Linked DNA regions of Homo sapiens. The protein of the gene in region 1 interacts with the protein of each later gene in a biochemical or structural test. Each region holds a gene or a part of one and is shown in the gene's direction. Other genes may lie near its edges.

Region 1 (7,665 bases):
AGGGCAACCGGCCCTCATCAGTGCGGCAGGGCACGCTCAGGTCGGGGCCAGGCAGCCTGGGCCCAAATCTCAGTGCTGACATTTCCTGGCCATGAGACTTTGATTTCCCTGTGCCTCAGTTTCCTCCTGTGGTCTCTGTGAACATTCTGTGAGGGCCCACCTGAGAACCTGGCACACGGGAGGTAGTCAGCAAATCTTCCAGGCCTGAGATTGCAAAGGGAGGATAGCCCGGGGAGGGAGATGTGGCTGAAAGCACAGCTGAGGGCCTGGGCTGCTGGGCCTCACTCACTAGTGTCTGGACCCTTCCAGGTTTGGATGTGTGCAGTGGCCCGCCATCCCCTCTGCCTGGAGCACCACCACAGGTGACAGGACCCCCCACCTGCTGTGCTGTTTCTATGCCAATGGGTCTCTCCCCTTACCCCGAACACCAGGAGGCCCTTCGTGACCCACTGGAGATGAGGGTGCTGGGTGGAGGGCATGAACACCACTGCTAGGGGGCCTCCTTGGGGATATTTCAAGAGGAAACACGGTCTCTTCCCATTGCTGACTGACTCCTGTTCACCTTCTCCAGCAGAAGGGGGATGAGGCCGACGTCTCTTCACCTCACCCTGGCGAGCCTGTGAGTTTGAGCTTTGCTCCCTTTGGATGATTTGAGTGTGGGGGGCACAGTCTCCTAGAAGCCTAGGCTGGCTCCTGGGCAGCCTTCAAGTGTGTGTGCATGCACACGTATGAGTGGAGGGTCAGGGCTGGGGAAACAGCAGATTCCCCTGCCTTATAGTGACTAGAAGTCTAAGGTGGAGGGGTGGGGAGGCAGGATTCAGGGGGGTGAACTCCGTGGAGGCAATACTCACAGCGCTGACCCCCAGTCAGGCTGCTGGTTGGAGACAAGGGGGACCTCCAGGCCAGGTGAGACTGTGGCTCCTGTCAGCTCCAGTGAAAAGGGCAGGAAAGCGCCAGCCCCTGCCTGGGATTCTGTCTGGGGAAGCCGGGAAAACCTCATCTTTGTTGATGAGCAACAGAAGCGCCCCACCCTGCTCACATCGAGGGGCCCACGTGCTCAGTGTTTCAAGGGCAGCAGTAGAATTTAGTGTCACCTGGAACTGGGTCTGGGATACAGTCCTCTGGAAGAGTCTCAGCACACACGAGGCAGCCACACAGACCCCCAGACCCACGTGCTGCTCACGGCCCAGGTTTCCCTTGGGGAATGAACAAAGTAAACTAACACTGCAGAATCTTAGAGCTTCTGAGCAGGAAGACATCACCTTTGCAAGAATCACCCCATCCAATGATCCCTAACCTCTTTGGATCATGGAACTCTGAGAAATTGTTGAAAGCTGTGGATGTTTTTCCTAGAAAAACACCCCTCCACACACAGACATACACATACATAATTTCAGAGGGTTCACAAACCTGGGTCCCTAAGAGTTAAGGGCCTTGCTAAGCAGCACCAAGGCTAGATCTGGGGCAACTGAGTTAGGGCCAAAGCTGCCTTCTATTCAGTTTTCCTCAGCTCCTATCCCTTGGGAAATTCTTGGCTGGTTTTGGATTGCAGGTTCCATTTTCCTGTCTGTTTGACAAACCTCGGGCAGAAGCCCTCTCCTTCCACATCGTCCACTCATACCCCATACACACTTATACAAATGGGCCCCTTGGCAAGGTGTGTGGGGGCAGAGACTCCACAGCAGAAGTGGCCTCACCTGTTTCCCCTCAACCTGCCCCCGAGGGTTCCAGCTCTACCTTGTCTTTTTCAGAACGTCCCCAAAGGGCTAGCTGACAGGAAGCAGAATGACCAGAGGAAAGTGTCTCAGGGCAGGCTGGCTCCTCGTCCTCCTCCAGTTGAGAAGTCCAAAGAGATTGCAATAGAACAAAAGGAAAACTTCGATCCCCTCCAGTACCCCGAGACCACACCCAAAGGCCTAGCTCCTGTTACAAACAGCAGTGGGAAAATGGCCCTGAACAGCCCTCAGCCTGGCCCCGTGGAGAGCGAGCTGGGGAAGCAGCTCTTGAAAACGGGCTGGGAGGGCAGCCCTCTGCCGAGAAGTCCAACCCAGGATGCGGCAGGAGTGGGTCCCCCAGCCTCCCAGGGGAGAGGCCCAGCTGGAGAGCCGATGGGGCCCGAGGCTGGCTCCAAAGCTGAGCTTCCACCCACTGTGTCCCGGCCCCCGCTGCTGCGAGGGCTCTCCTGGGACAGTGGCCCTGAAGAACCTGGCCCCCGGCTGCAGAAAGTGCTTGCCAAGCTGCCACTGGCAGAGGAAGAAAAGCGTTTTGCAGGCAAGGCCGGCGGCAAGCTGGCCAAGGCCCCTGGTCTCAAAGACTTTCAGATACAAGTGCAGCCCGTGCGGATGCAGAAACTGACCAAGCTCCGAGAGGTGGGTTCCTGGGGGCCAGTTGGGCAGAGTGTGTACTCCAGGTACTCCCTGGGCTGAAGACCTCAGGGCTGAGTCTGGGCCCCTGGCCAGGGCAGCTCTGGCCTGGACTTGGGCCTTGTGAGGGCGTAAATTTTCCCACTCTGAGAAGTCAGGCCTATTTATGTGGCATCTCTTTCCTAAATACCAGTTTTAGGTGCTTTTTTATGCCAGTTACCAGGCAGAGCTCAGTCTAAAATCTAGTTGCCACACAAAGCCACATCTCAGGGGAAGGCAGACGTGTGGAGGGACATGTGGGCCCCTCAGTCCTGGGCTGCTTTCCTCCTCCAACCGGAGTCAGTGGCTCATAAACAGGAATCCCTTGATGGAGTGCCCAGTCATGCCTAGGATTAGCTAGCAAGGGTGAAATAGTGATTTCCTTTGTGATGCCCCCAAGCCTTCCTTCCTGATGCCTGTTAACAAAAGCTTTAAGTCCATCTGCAAGTGTGAAGGCTGCTCCGCCCATGGTGAGTTTCTTCCAGTGCCCATGGTGTCCCCTCAGCTTCTGTTGGCCATCAAACCAGGCACAGCGGTCTCCTGTGGGGTTGCCACCCTATGCAGGGTATGATTGGGGGCATCCAGAGATAGAGACCAGATAACAGGACAAAGCAATTCTGACCAGTCCTGTCTCCTCCAGAAGGCCCACTTGGAATATAAACCAAGGCACCTGGATTCCACAGAGTGAGGCCCAGCACCCTCAGAGCAGGAGGCTTCTCCTGGCTCCTCTACAGAGGGAAATGTGGGGCAGGGAAGAAAAGAAGGTGCCCGATAGCACTCAAGCACAATTGAGGGGATTTGTGTGCTGGCAGGGACACATTCCAATGCTGGCCACTATCCTATTCAGATACCTTCATGATGCTCTGAACTGGAGGCACAGGGGAGCTGGGGCGTGGCTGCTGATGTTAACATTTTACACACAAAACTCCTCCTAGTCAGAAAGACCCAACTAACTAGCGGATCAAACAGCACAGGGCCCAGAGGAGTTGCCACAGTCCCGGATCTCTAGCGGAAGTTGGAGCCAAGGGGCCGATAGCCAGGGATTTGCCTTCATGGGCCTCTGGTTATCAGAGCCTCCTCACTCCCTACACTCCTGCAGATTTCGCCCACCCAGAGAAGTTACAGGGAACCTGGAGGCCCCATGTCACTAACCACTACCCTGGCACCTGAGTGCCCAGCCCCTACCCGACTCCAGTGTGCTGAAGCTGATGGGCTGTGGGCCTCTGGCTTGCTAACCAAATGGGTAAAGGGTCCTTGACCATGACTTCCACTTGGATCATGAGCACCCTCTGCTGGCCCCTTCCTTTCCTCCCTTCTCGGGGGACAAACCATTCCCAAGTGCCCTCTGCCACACAGCAGACTGAAGATCCATAAGTCACAGGGGCAAGGAGCTCTGCCAGGTGCCTCCACTCAGGTCCTTGGTCTGGTGCTAATTGGCTTAGAGCAGGTGTGAGCCCACTTGGGCCACATCCCATCTCTCCCCGGGCTCTGCCAGCTGAGGCCCTAAGCCAGCAATTCTCAGGCCTCACTTTTCTGGAGAGTTTAAAAACTCAAGAGGTGCCATAAAAGGCCATTGATGACCTGAGTGTGTGGGGCAATCGCAGCTCCTGGAAGTGAGCAGTCACTGCCCGGAATGACAGGGCAGGAAGATCCAGCCAGCCATGAGATCGCCAAAGCTGTTTCCAGGAGCAGCGCCATACACACCCAGGGGACCCTCCTGTCCCAGAGCCCTTAGTTCTGCCCCTGTGTGTCCTTTGCAAACCTCAGCCACAGTGAGGCCAAGCAGTTCATTTACCCTGAAGCCCACAGACTTGTTTAAAAAGACCATGCCAAGGGTAGTCCCTGACCCATGGAAAGTGGTGCTGACAGTGGCGTTTCAGGCACCTTCACGGACTGGGAGAGGAACTATTTCCTGGTGCTTCTCAGGCCTCACCATGCCATGCCTGCCCACCCACCTCTCAGGCTGCCCCGCTTTCCCACCTAAGATAGTGGTCGCAGAACCATAGACAGAGCCAAGAGAACAGCCCAGCCCAGTGTCATCATCTGAAATTGTTATCTCTTTCTTTTACCACAAAGGAGCACATCCTGATGAGAAATCAGAACTTAGTGGGGCTCAAGCTTCCAGACCTTAGTGAAGCAGCTGAGCAGGAAAAAGGTAGGTGGGGTTGGGGCAGATGCTGTCTCAGCGAGTGCTGATTTGTCTGTGCCAGATCAAGGAAGGTGAATGTGTAAACACAAGACTTCCTGTGTCTTCCTCAGGAAACATTTGCTGGTGAATGAATGAATCCGATTGTGTCTTCTGCCCGCTCAGCACCTCCAAACCTGCCTCCTTCCAACCAGCCCCCAGGCCTCGCTGTCAGCCCTCCCTAAGCCATGCTGGCATCTAGTGGGCCTGGAAGGGTGCCTCAGGCCTGAACTTTTGACACTTCCTTTTCCTCGTACACCCAGGAAGCTGCCCAAACTGAAGAGTTCCTCTTTTCAAGGCATCACGGCCATCTCTTGCTTACTAATCTGCTGTCACCACAAAGTCCATACCCCAGCCCTGCCCTGCTGGGTAGCTGCAGGCCCCTTCCTCCAAGCCTCTGGTTCCCTGTCCACCTTCTGCCAGAACCATGGCGGGGAAAATGGTTCTGAAAATGAGGCTTCAGCCCCCGCACTGCCTCCCTCTCTGCACTCACCTCTGCCGATGTTCTCAGTAGGGTTCTGACCCCTCTAGATCTAGCTGGGCAAGTCCAGCCCTGCTCCCAGTGCCCCCAACACCCTTCCTCGGCCCCATTCTCCTGCATGAGTATGTCGAGCCCCACCACGAGTTGGAACTGTAAGCCCTGCTACCACTCAGGTGACCTGGGCAAGCTATTCAACCTCCCTGGGCATGTAAAACCAGGCTAAGAACAGTACCTGCCTTCTTAGGTGATTATGGAGATTAAAGCAGCTAATATCTATAAAGTACCTAAAACAATACCTGGTACATGACAGGTGTTATCTAGGTGTCAGCTATTATCCCTAGAGAAGAAGCCCCCAAGGGCAGGAGTGTGTGTGTGTGTGTGTGTGTGTGTCCACTGCTTACAACAATGCCTGGCACTACTAGGGCCTGCATAGGTATTTGTTGAATGAACGAATGAAATTGTATGAGATGTGGCAGGGGGCTAGGTGAACCTGTAATCCCAGCACTTTGGGAGGGAGGTGGCTTGCTTGAGCTGAGGACTTTGAGACCAGTCTGGGCAGCATGACGAAGCCCCATCTCTACAAAAAATACAAAAATTACCTGGGCATGGTGACACACACCTGTAGTCCCAGCTACCCGGGAGGCTGAGGTGGGAGGATCGCTTGAGCCTGGGAGGTCAAGGCTGCAGTGAACTGTGATCGTGCCACTGTACTCTAGGGTCTCGCTCTGGGGTACAGAGTGAGATCCTGTCTCAAAAGAAACATTTTTAAAAAGATGTGGCAGGAGCATTGAGATAGGTACATGAAAATAATTTGTAACTGTAACCATAGTGCCATGAGGTGGGCAAAGAGGCATGGGTGAGTGGAGAGAGATGAGTGTTTCCAACAGGCCAGGCTCCTGGCTCTTCCCTCTTCCCAGAGCCTCTTCTCTGTGGCCACTCACCCTCTAGCCTCTGTGCCTCTGTCCCCGCGGCATCTCCCTCCTGCTGGGCTATCTCCCTCCTCTCTGAGTCATATGGTACCTGTTCCTTAAAGCAGTGGGTTAGTCCCACCAGCTCTGCAATCTTCTACTTTCTTGACTTTCTTTTGTATTTTACTCTATATAGTACTCCCTTTTTCAGAGGGGGTGGGGGACTATTTTTTATTGTAAATATATATAACATTCAACTTGCCATTTTAGCCATTTTTAAGTATACAGTTCAGTGGCAGTAAGTACATTCATATTATGAAGCCATCACCACTATCCATTTCTAGAACGTTTTCATCATTGCAAACTGAAATGCCATACTCATTAAAACAATAACTCTTTATTCCCTCCCTCCCCAGCCCCTGGTGATCACCTTCTACTTTCTGTCTCTATGTATTTGACTCTTCTAGATCCCTCCTAGAAATGGAATCATACAGTATCTGTCCTTTTGTGTCGAGCTCATTTCAATTAGTAAAACATCTTCAAGGTTCATCCGTGTCACCTAGTCCTTTTAATTCAATCTTAATTAATAAACTTCCCATAGCATTTTCCACAGTATAAACCATTTTGTTACCTCTGATTTTATGTAATCTTCCCAGTCAGCTAAGAGGGGCAGGGATTCTTGCTCTTATAGTTGAGGAAACTGAGGCCCGAGGATCTCCTGACTCCAAATCTCATGGTTTGGCCATCTCATGAACAGTTTTAAAACTTTTTTTAAGCTGCACAACATTTCAGACAAGCTGATCTGTAGGAGGCCAGCGTGTTGGGGAGATGCAAATGGGGCTGCTCTGGTTGAAGGGGATAGAAGGGCTTGGATCCTTCATCTTCTGAGACTGTGGGCCCAAGGTACCTCCAGGGACCCAGGCTTCACAGAGCACCATTTGAAAATCCTTGCCCCGCTTCAAGCTGCTGGGGGCCAGTCTCAGCATAAGAGCCCTATGGATTCTTGGGTGAATGTGTCCAGGATGTCACTAACAATGGTGGAAGCCCCTGGTCTGAACTGTAGTAACTTACACCTACCTATTTATTCAGCATTAATAAGAAGGTTCCCAGAAGTAAAATTTCAAACAGTGTTTTTTCCCAAGGGCAAAATATTTTAAATAACCATCTTTAAAGAGATCTTTTGAAAATGCAGCATATACTTCTCTAATTATAATTTTAAATTTACTAAAGCATATTTAAAACACTGGAAAAAACACTTTAAAATTTCACCCACAACCCCATCAATTCTGAAAAACTAACAATTTTTCTTCTTTGCAATATTTGCCCATATTTATAATGTTTTCAGTTGATTTGATGAATAGATACAGCTTCTTTTTTTTACTTGTTATTTTATACTCAGCAATTTCTCCTCAGTTATGATTTAATGGGTGCATAGTTCCTCTTGTATTGACCTATCTATTGTTCTTTGAACTAGGATTAACAATGCTAGTATAAACAATTATGGACCGTTAGTTGTTCTTTTTTCTTCCTTTAAATCATTCCCTTGAGATAAGTGTTCAGACTTGAGAATCACAAGGTTAAAGAGTAGAAACATTTGCATTTCCCAAATTACTTACAATGAATAACGCTACTGACAAAGACTGAATGGACATCTTTCTCTTACGCATTACCCGTGCTGGTGTTTGCTTC
Region 2 (7,665 bases), on another chromosome or scaffold:
AAACAAACTCTTCTGGAAGGGAAGACAGACATAAAACAATCACACAAATGAAAAGATAATTACAAAGTACAATAAGTGGCATAAGGGTGCTATAAAAGTGTAACAGGGACTCTAATTTAGATTAAACTTTAAACTAGAGCATGAAATTAGATTGCTAGGTTACGTGGGTTGATATAGGTTATGTAATTGGTTGTAATAGGTTGACCAGAGTAGGCCTTTTGGAGGAAACAGCATAACACTTATACTGAAACTTGATAAAGTGAGGCATTGGCCAGATAAGTATGGGAAGAACCTTCCAGACCAAATAAGTAACACCATGAGGTAGGAAAGTGCTCGGCATTTCAGTGGAACAGAGAGAAGGCTATTGTTTCTGGATCCCAGTGAGTGAGGGTGGTAATGGCATGAGGTGGGGTAGTATCGTTGGTGTTCCTGCGGCCCCTCCTAATGATTTTGGACTTCATCTCAAGTATAATCAATGAGTCAGTAAGTGTGGAAAAGGTCAGAGAGTAGAAGAAGCATCTTGAATGACCAAGGACAGCATGAGGGCTTAGACTCCAGCACTTAAAAGAAAGCAAGAGAAGAGCAGATAAACTTGACCCATTTCTGGTTTCACTAAGTGATTTACTTGGAAGGGCTTCCACACTGTTTTGCTATTAATCTATTTTCATTCCATTGTCACTATTAATCTAAGCCCCCAAATATGAATTGATGTCATCTGTGGAGTTTATAGCAATTCAAGTGTTCTCATGTAGAAAATAAAAGTAATATCTCTTGTCGTGTCTCTCATTCTTGCAGCCCACCTTTCTCAGGCCCAGATCCTATGAAAACCTATAACATCATATTGAGGGGGATTGACATGATAGAATTTCCAAAGAAGATTGCCAAAAATGCTGCTAATTTAATTAAAAAACTATGCAGGTAAGTATTTCAACCACATTATTTTTGAAAACATCATAATGTGAAAAAATTAGATTTAATAAAACCATTATTTTATTTTTAGGGACAATCCATCAGAAAGATTAGGGAATTTGAAAAATGGAGTAAAAGACATTCAAAAGCACAAGTAAGTGTTCTTTCTGCAGAGTTCTGAACACGTGACATCATTTCCCCAGGGTGTTGCTTTTTAAGTTATTGGTGTAAAACTAGTATAATTAGCCTATAGGAACATCCAAAGACAGCGTATAAACTAGTAAGGCTTTTAAATGCCTTTCTAGTTGTGATTATGAAACCTTATTTATATTTATCTGACAACCCTGTAACATAAGAAGCTGAACTCAGTTTCTTACAACTCATACCAACTAGCATTTTTTTCCCCTCTGGCACAAAGGGGAAATGTGTATTTTAAATTTGGGGATTCTATTCTCTACCACAGAATTACAAATAAAAGTCCCCTACTGTATCTTACCTGATTTCCTAAAGACAAAATATATTTTTCCAAGCATTTCCTAATTAGATGTTATAACAGGAGAAAAACATAAGTACAGAATACAGTGTTTTTTAAACAATAGCAACATCTTAAATATCAGACCTTCCCTATGTTGATTGGATGTTCTAAAGCTAAACTAATTGGGTTTTCTCTATTTGTTTGTGTAACACTGACAGGAAATTCACATCCTTATCAAAGAAACATGTTTACTAAAATATCTCTGAATATCTGAAAAGCCTGCTAAGAATTTGTTGTAAGCATTTGCTAATGCTGAAACCCTTCAAAGACAAAAGAAAACAAACAAGCAAAAACTTTAGTCTTTTTTGGTTCTTATTTTCACAGAAAAACTGTACACAAAATATCTTTATTCTTCATTAAAAAAGGGAAAAAAAGAAGAAAATGGGACATGTAGAGACTATGACAATGATGTGAAAAGGTTAATTAGCTGACACTGTGCACTGAATCAGTGGCAAAAATGGAAAGTTAATTTTCTATCCTGACTTTTCATGCCCTGGTTCTACCTCCTTAAAATAAAATATCCTGTAAGGCACAGGGCCAGACACATTATGACATGTATTAAATTTTAATTATAGTGTAGGAACAAGGTCATAGAGACATTATGACTGAATTACAAGGAATAAGTGTTGCATGTTAATTGGTGTTTAAAATTTGACAGTTATACTTTTAAAAATATGTATTTCATAAAATAAACTATTAGGAAAACATATGCAATTAAATAGAAAACATTTTTGTCACATGAAAATGTTTGCCTAACTGCTTCCCATTAGCCATGGACATTGTATACACTGCAATGAGAAGCTTTTAGCTGACACAAAATGTTTTTATCAACGTTTTTTCCTTTTCTAGATGGTTTGAGGGCTTTAACTGGGAAGGCTTAAGAAAAGGTACCTTGACACCTCCTATAATACCAAGTGTAAGTAGACTTTCCAGCTTATAATTGTGTGACATAATTGATGGTGTTTATGTCAGTCAACAATGATCTGTTATTTTTAAAGTTTAATCCTATGATTAAGTTAAACAAACTCTAGGAAAAATGTCACATTAAAATAATGACATATTCTAAAATCCAAACTTGAAAGCAGATAAATTTGGGGATAGTCACTGTAAATGTGTTTTACTCTTCTCTTTTTTAACTATTCATTTGATTCAAGTTTCCCTCATTTATGAACATAAGTTAATTTTTAGCATGGGAAATGTTCAAAATATAGAAATGCAGACAAAAATATATAGGTGAGAGGATCACTTGAGGCCAGGAGTTCAAGAGTTCAAGACCAGCCAGCCTGGACAACATAGTGAGACTCTGTCTCTACAAAAAAAGAAAAGAAAATACTAGCCAGGTGTGCTGATGTGCACCTATAGTCCTAACTACTCAAAAGTCTGGAGCAGGAGGATCACTTGAGCCCAGGAATTTGAGCTTACAGTGAGCTGTGATTGTACCACTATACTTCAGCTTGGGTGACAGAGTGGAAAGACCCTGTCTCTAAAAAAAGAAATAAAATAACACTTTTTCAAAGAGTCTTTACATGATCACTCTTTTTTTTTTTTTTTTTTAATTTTTTTTTTGAGATGGAGTCTTAATCTGTCACCCAGGCTGGAATGCAGTGGCGTGATCTCGGCTTACTGCAACCCCTGCATCCCAGGTTCAAGCAATTCTCCTGCCTCAGTCTCCTGAGTAGCTGGGATTGTAGGCAAGTGCCACCACTCCCAGCTAATTTTGGTATTTTTAGTAGAGACACAGTTTCACCATGTTGGCCAGGCTGGTCTTGAATTCCTGACCTCAAGTGATCCTCCCACCTCGGCCTCCCAAGGGTTGGGATTACAGACGTGAGCACCGCGCTGGGCCTACGTGATCACTCTTTTATTTTTTTATTTTTTTATTTTTTTATTATTATTATACTTTAAGTTTTAGGGTACATGTGCACAATGTGCAGGTTAGTTACATATGTATACATGTGCCATGCTGGTGTGCTGCACCCATTAACTTGTCATTTAGCATTAGGTGTATCTCCTAAAGCTATCCCTCCCCCCTCCCCCCACCCCACAACAGTCCCCAGAGTGTGATGGTCCCCTTCCTGTGTTCATGTGTTCTCATTGTTCAGTTCCCACCTATGAGTGAGAATATGCGGTGTTTGGTTTTTTGTTCTTGCGATAGTTTACTGAGAAATGATTTCCAATTTCATCCACGTCCCTACAAAGGACATGAACTCATCATTTTTATGGCTGCATAGTATTCCATGGTGTATACGTGCCACATTTTCTTAATCCAGTCTATCATTCTTGGACATTTGGGTTAGTTCCAAGTCTTTGCTATTGTGAATAGTGCCGCAATAAACATACGTGTGCATGTGTCTTTATAGCAGCATGATTTATAGTCATTTGGGTATATACCCAGTAATGGGATGGCTGGGTCAAATGGTATTTCTAGTTCTAGATCCCTGAGGAATCGCCACACTGACTTCCACAATGGTTTAACTAGTTTACAGTCCCACCAACAGTGTAAAAGTGTTCCTATTTCTCCACATCCTCTCCAGCACCTGTTGTTTCCTGACTTTTTAATGATCGCCATTCTAACTGGTGTGAGATGGTATCTCATTGTTGTGTTGATTTGCATTTCTCTGATGGCCAGTGATCCAGTGATGATGAGTATTTTTTCATGTGTTTTTTGGCTGCATAAATGTCTTCTTTTGAGAAGTGTCGGTTCATGTCCTTGGCCCACTTTTTGATGGGGTTGTTTGTTTTTTTTCTTGTAAATTTGTTTGAGTTCATTGTAGATTCTGGATATTAGCCCTTTGTCAGATGAGTAGGTTGCGAAAATTTTCTCCCATTTTGTAGGTTGCCTGTTCACTCTGATGGTAGTTTCTTTTGCAGTGCAGGAGCTCTTTAGTTTAATTAGATCCCATTTGTCAATTTTGGCTTTTGTTGCCATTGCTTTTGGTGTTTTAGACATGAAGTCCTTGCCCATGCCTATGTCCTGAATGGTAATGCCTAGGTCTTCTTCTAGGGTTTTTATGGTTTTAGGTCTAACGTTTAAGTCTTTAATCCATCTTGAATTAATTTTTGTATAAGGTGTAAGGAAGGGATCCAGTTTCAGCTTTCTACATATGGCTAGCCAGTTTTCCCAGCACCATTTATTAAATAGGGAATCGTTTCCCCATTGCTTGTTTTTCTCAGGTTTGTCAAAGATCAGATAGTTGTAGATATGCGGCGTTATTTCTGAGGGCTCTGTTCTGTTCCATTGATCTATATCTCTGTTTTGGTACCAGTACCATGCTGTTTTGGTTACTCTAGCCTTGTAGTATAGATGCAGAAAAGGCCTCTGACAAAATTTAACAACCCTTCATGCTAAAAACTCTCAATAAATTAGGTATTGATGGGACATATCTCAAAATAATAAGAGCTATCTATGACAAACCCACAGCCAATATCATACTGAATGGGCAAAAACTGGAAGCATTCCCTTTGAAAACTGGCACAAGACAGGGATGCCCTCTCTCACCACTCCTATTCAACATAGTGTTGGAAGTTCTGGTCAGGGCAATTAGGCAGGAGAAGTAAATAAAGGGTATTCAATTAGGAAAAGAGGAAGTCAAATTGTCCCTGTTTGCAGATGACATGATTATATATACAGAAAACCCCATTGTCTCAGCCCAAAATCTCCTTAAGCTGATAAGCAACTTCAGCAAAGTCTCAGGATACAAAATCAATGTACAAAAATCACAAGCATTCTTATACACCAATAACAGACAAACAGAGAGCCAAATCATGAGTGAACTCCCATTCACAATTGCTTCAAAGAGAATAAAATACCTAGGAATCCAACTTCCAAGGGATGTGAAGGACCTCTTCAAGGAGAACTACAACCCACTGCTCAATGAAATAAAAGAGGAAACAAACAAATGGAAGAACATTCCATGCTCATGGGTAGGAAGAATCAATATCGTGAAAATGGCCATACTGCCCAAGGTAATTTATAGATTCAATGCCATCCCCATCAAGCTACCAATGACTTTCTTCACAGAATTGGAAAAAACTACTTTAAAGTTCATATGGAACCAAAAAAGAGCCTGCATCGCCAAGTCAATCCTGAGCCAAAGAACAAAGCTGGAGGCATCACGCTACATGATCACTCTTATACTTTCATGGCATCTTTGTTTCCATAGCTCTAGCCAAAGTTTATTATATAGAAAGATTTTAGTGATTATTTGTTTTAATCATACAGTTTATTACTCACAAGGGTATAAACTCTCCAAGGATAAGAACCATGTCTGCTTGTACTTACCACTGTGACCCTCAATACCTGCTACATAGTAGATACTCAATGAAATAGTCACTAATAGGGAATAAATACAGAATGCACTTAAAAATTCCAGCTTGGAATTCCACTAAAAAAAATCCACTAAAAAAAACCTGTCCATTTTTTACAGGTTGCATCACCCACAGACACAAGTAATTTTGACAGTTTCCCTGAGGACAACGATGAACCACCACCTGATGACAACTCAGGATGGGATATAGACTTCTAATGTATTTCTCTTACCTGCTTCTGCCTTGCTGAAGACAGCTTTTTCTGAGACACAGCTGCCAGCAAACCTGAGGGAAAGAGAGAAGATTAGTGCTCGGGGTCACCATGATGCCTTTGATCGATGCTGCTCCAGTAACTACAGTGGCATTAGGACTTACCGCTTAGATGACAATAGTGCTCTTTACATGTTTTCTGTTTGAACCTAAAATAGCAGTTGACATGGTGGTCCTGAAGCAAAGCCTTTCACCAGTAAAAGATGTTTTCTATTGTTGCAATGACCTTGCTTTGCTCTGATTATAATTTGAAAGACTGTAGGAAACACTTCAATGTAGTATAAGAGTCTGTACCTTGCTGGAATATTCAAGAAGATGAAAGAATAATATATTGGGTACAATAGATTACTATGGTACAGAAACTGGGCTATTCCCTTTCTTCAAGTGAAGGCTGTGGGATCTATTACTGCAGGCCGGTGTATATACCATACAAAAGAGGACCACACATCTGTTGGTCACAGAGTTCATGTCACACCAGTGCTAGAAGTTTCATGATTTTATTTCCCAGCAGTGCTGATGACAAGACTGAATGTTACCTTTTCTTTCTGACAGATTTTAAAAATTGATATGATAAAAGCACAACTGCTATAGATTCTGCTGAGACCTCTCATAGTAGGTATATATGAGTTTTCACAGAAGACTGAAAAATAATGCATGATATTTGTTTGTTTTTTTTGATAAATTGGCATGACAGAGTGGGGAAAAAAAGCAATTCACAAAACCATTTCATATTTTTTAAAATATTGTGCTTAAAGATGGTCCTGGAAGTAAATGACTAGCAGCCAATTGGTTTTACTTAACATACCCTCAAACTGAGGCTTAAAGTATTCCCTTTTATAAAAATAAATGCTTGGGGTAGGGTGGAGTGGGGAGGGATTAAAACCCATCCAAAAAATAAATAAAAACTATATAGGTGCTATGTATATCTTTCATCTGTAAATGTCAGTGTCTGAACAGACAACACAAATTCAAATCATTATACGTGTAGCCAGAAACTCAAGCATTTTCACTAAAGTTATTAAACCAAACTCCTGTCCAATTTCACTTATACAACATAGTCAGTCTAGAGTTGAGAGACAAAGGTAATTATAAACCTATTTGAACTAGCTTCTTGTCTTAGGCCTGAACCAAAAAACAACAAACAAACAAAAAACAAGAATGAAAAACAGAAATAAAAGAAGTAGAAAAGACAAAGAAAGAAAGCCCAAAGTCAAAGTTGTTAATATTTACAGGTTTACCAGATCTGGAACATTACTTATTTGAGGTCAGAGAACAAAACAAGAACCTGGCCAGGTGTTGATTACCTTTTAGTGAATAAGCTGAGTCCATATACTTGTCTAACTAAGAAAGCAGTACAGAGGAAAACAGGAACCTGATTTTTTTAAAATAAATTTTAAATAAAATAGAATTACTACAATTCTGCAATTTCATACTACCTAAAAAAGACTAGATTTGAAAATGTCAAGCTGATTTACTTTATTCACATGGAGAAAAGAATCCACAAATTAAACTGAGTCCTTCACTGGCATGCCAGTTGACTATTATTAGCTGTCATAAGTAACTCAGCCATTTGGAAGCATTTCCTGGACAAAATTACATTATACCTGTGAAGAAAAATATAGAAGCTTTCAAGCTGTCATTCT

The links. The genes of interacting proteins can lie anywhere in the genome.
Region 2: of the proteins of IRAG1 (region 1) and PRKG1, one has a biochemical effect on the other in vitro, tested with the Homo sapiens proteins (one study listed by BioGRID).

Annotation. Positions count from the first base shown.
Region 1 is NC_000011.10:10,620,670-10,628,334, reverse strand, and holds part of IRAG1 (inositol 1,4,5-triphosphate receptor associated 1), read left to right. Parts: intron 1-309; coding exon 310-362; intron 363-571; coding exon of another isoform or gene 572-574; coding exon 575-619; intron 620-1,751; coding exon 1,752-2,369; intron 2,370-4,478; coding exon 4,479-4,557; intron 4,558-7,665.
Region 2 is NC_000010.11:52,287,931-52,295,595, forward strand, and holds part of PRKG1 (cGMP-dependent protein kinase 1), read left to right. Parts: intron 1-795; coding exon 796-918; intron 919-1,000; coding exon 1,001-1,063; intron 1,064-2,293; coding exon 2,294-2,360; intron 2,361-5,871; coding exon 5,872-5,970; 3' UTR 5,971-7,665. UniProt on the Homo sapiens protein: Serine/threonine protein kinase that acts as a key mediator of the nitric oxide (NO)/cGMP signaling pathway. GMP binding activates PRKG1, which phosphorylates serines and threonines on many cellular proteins.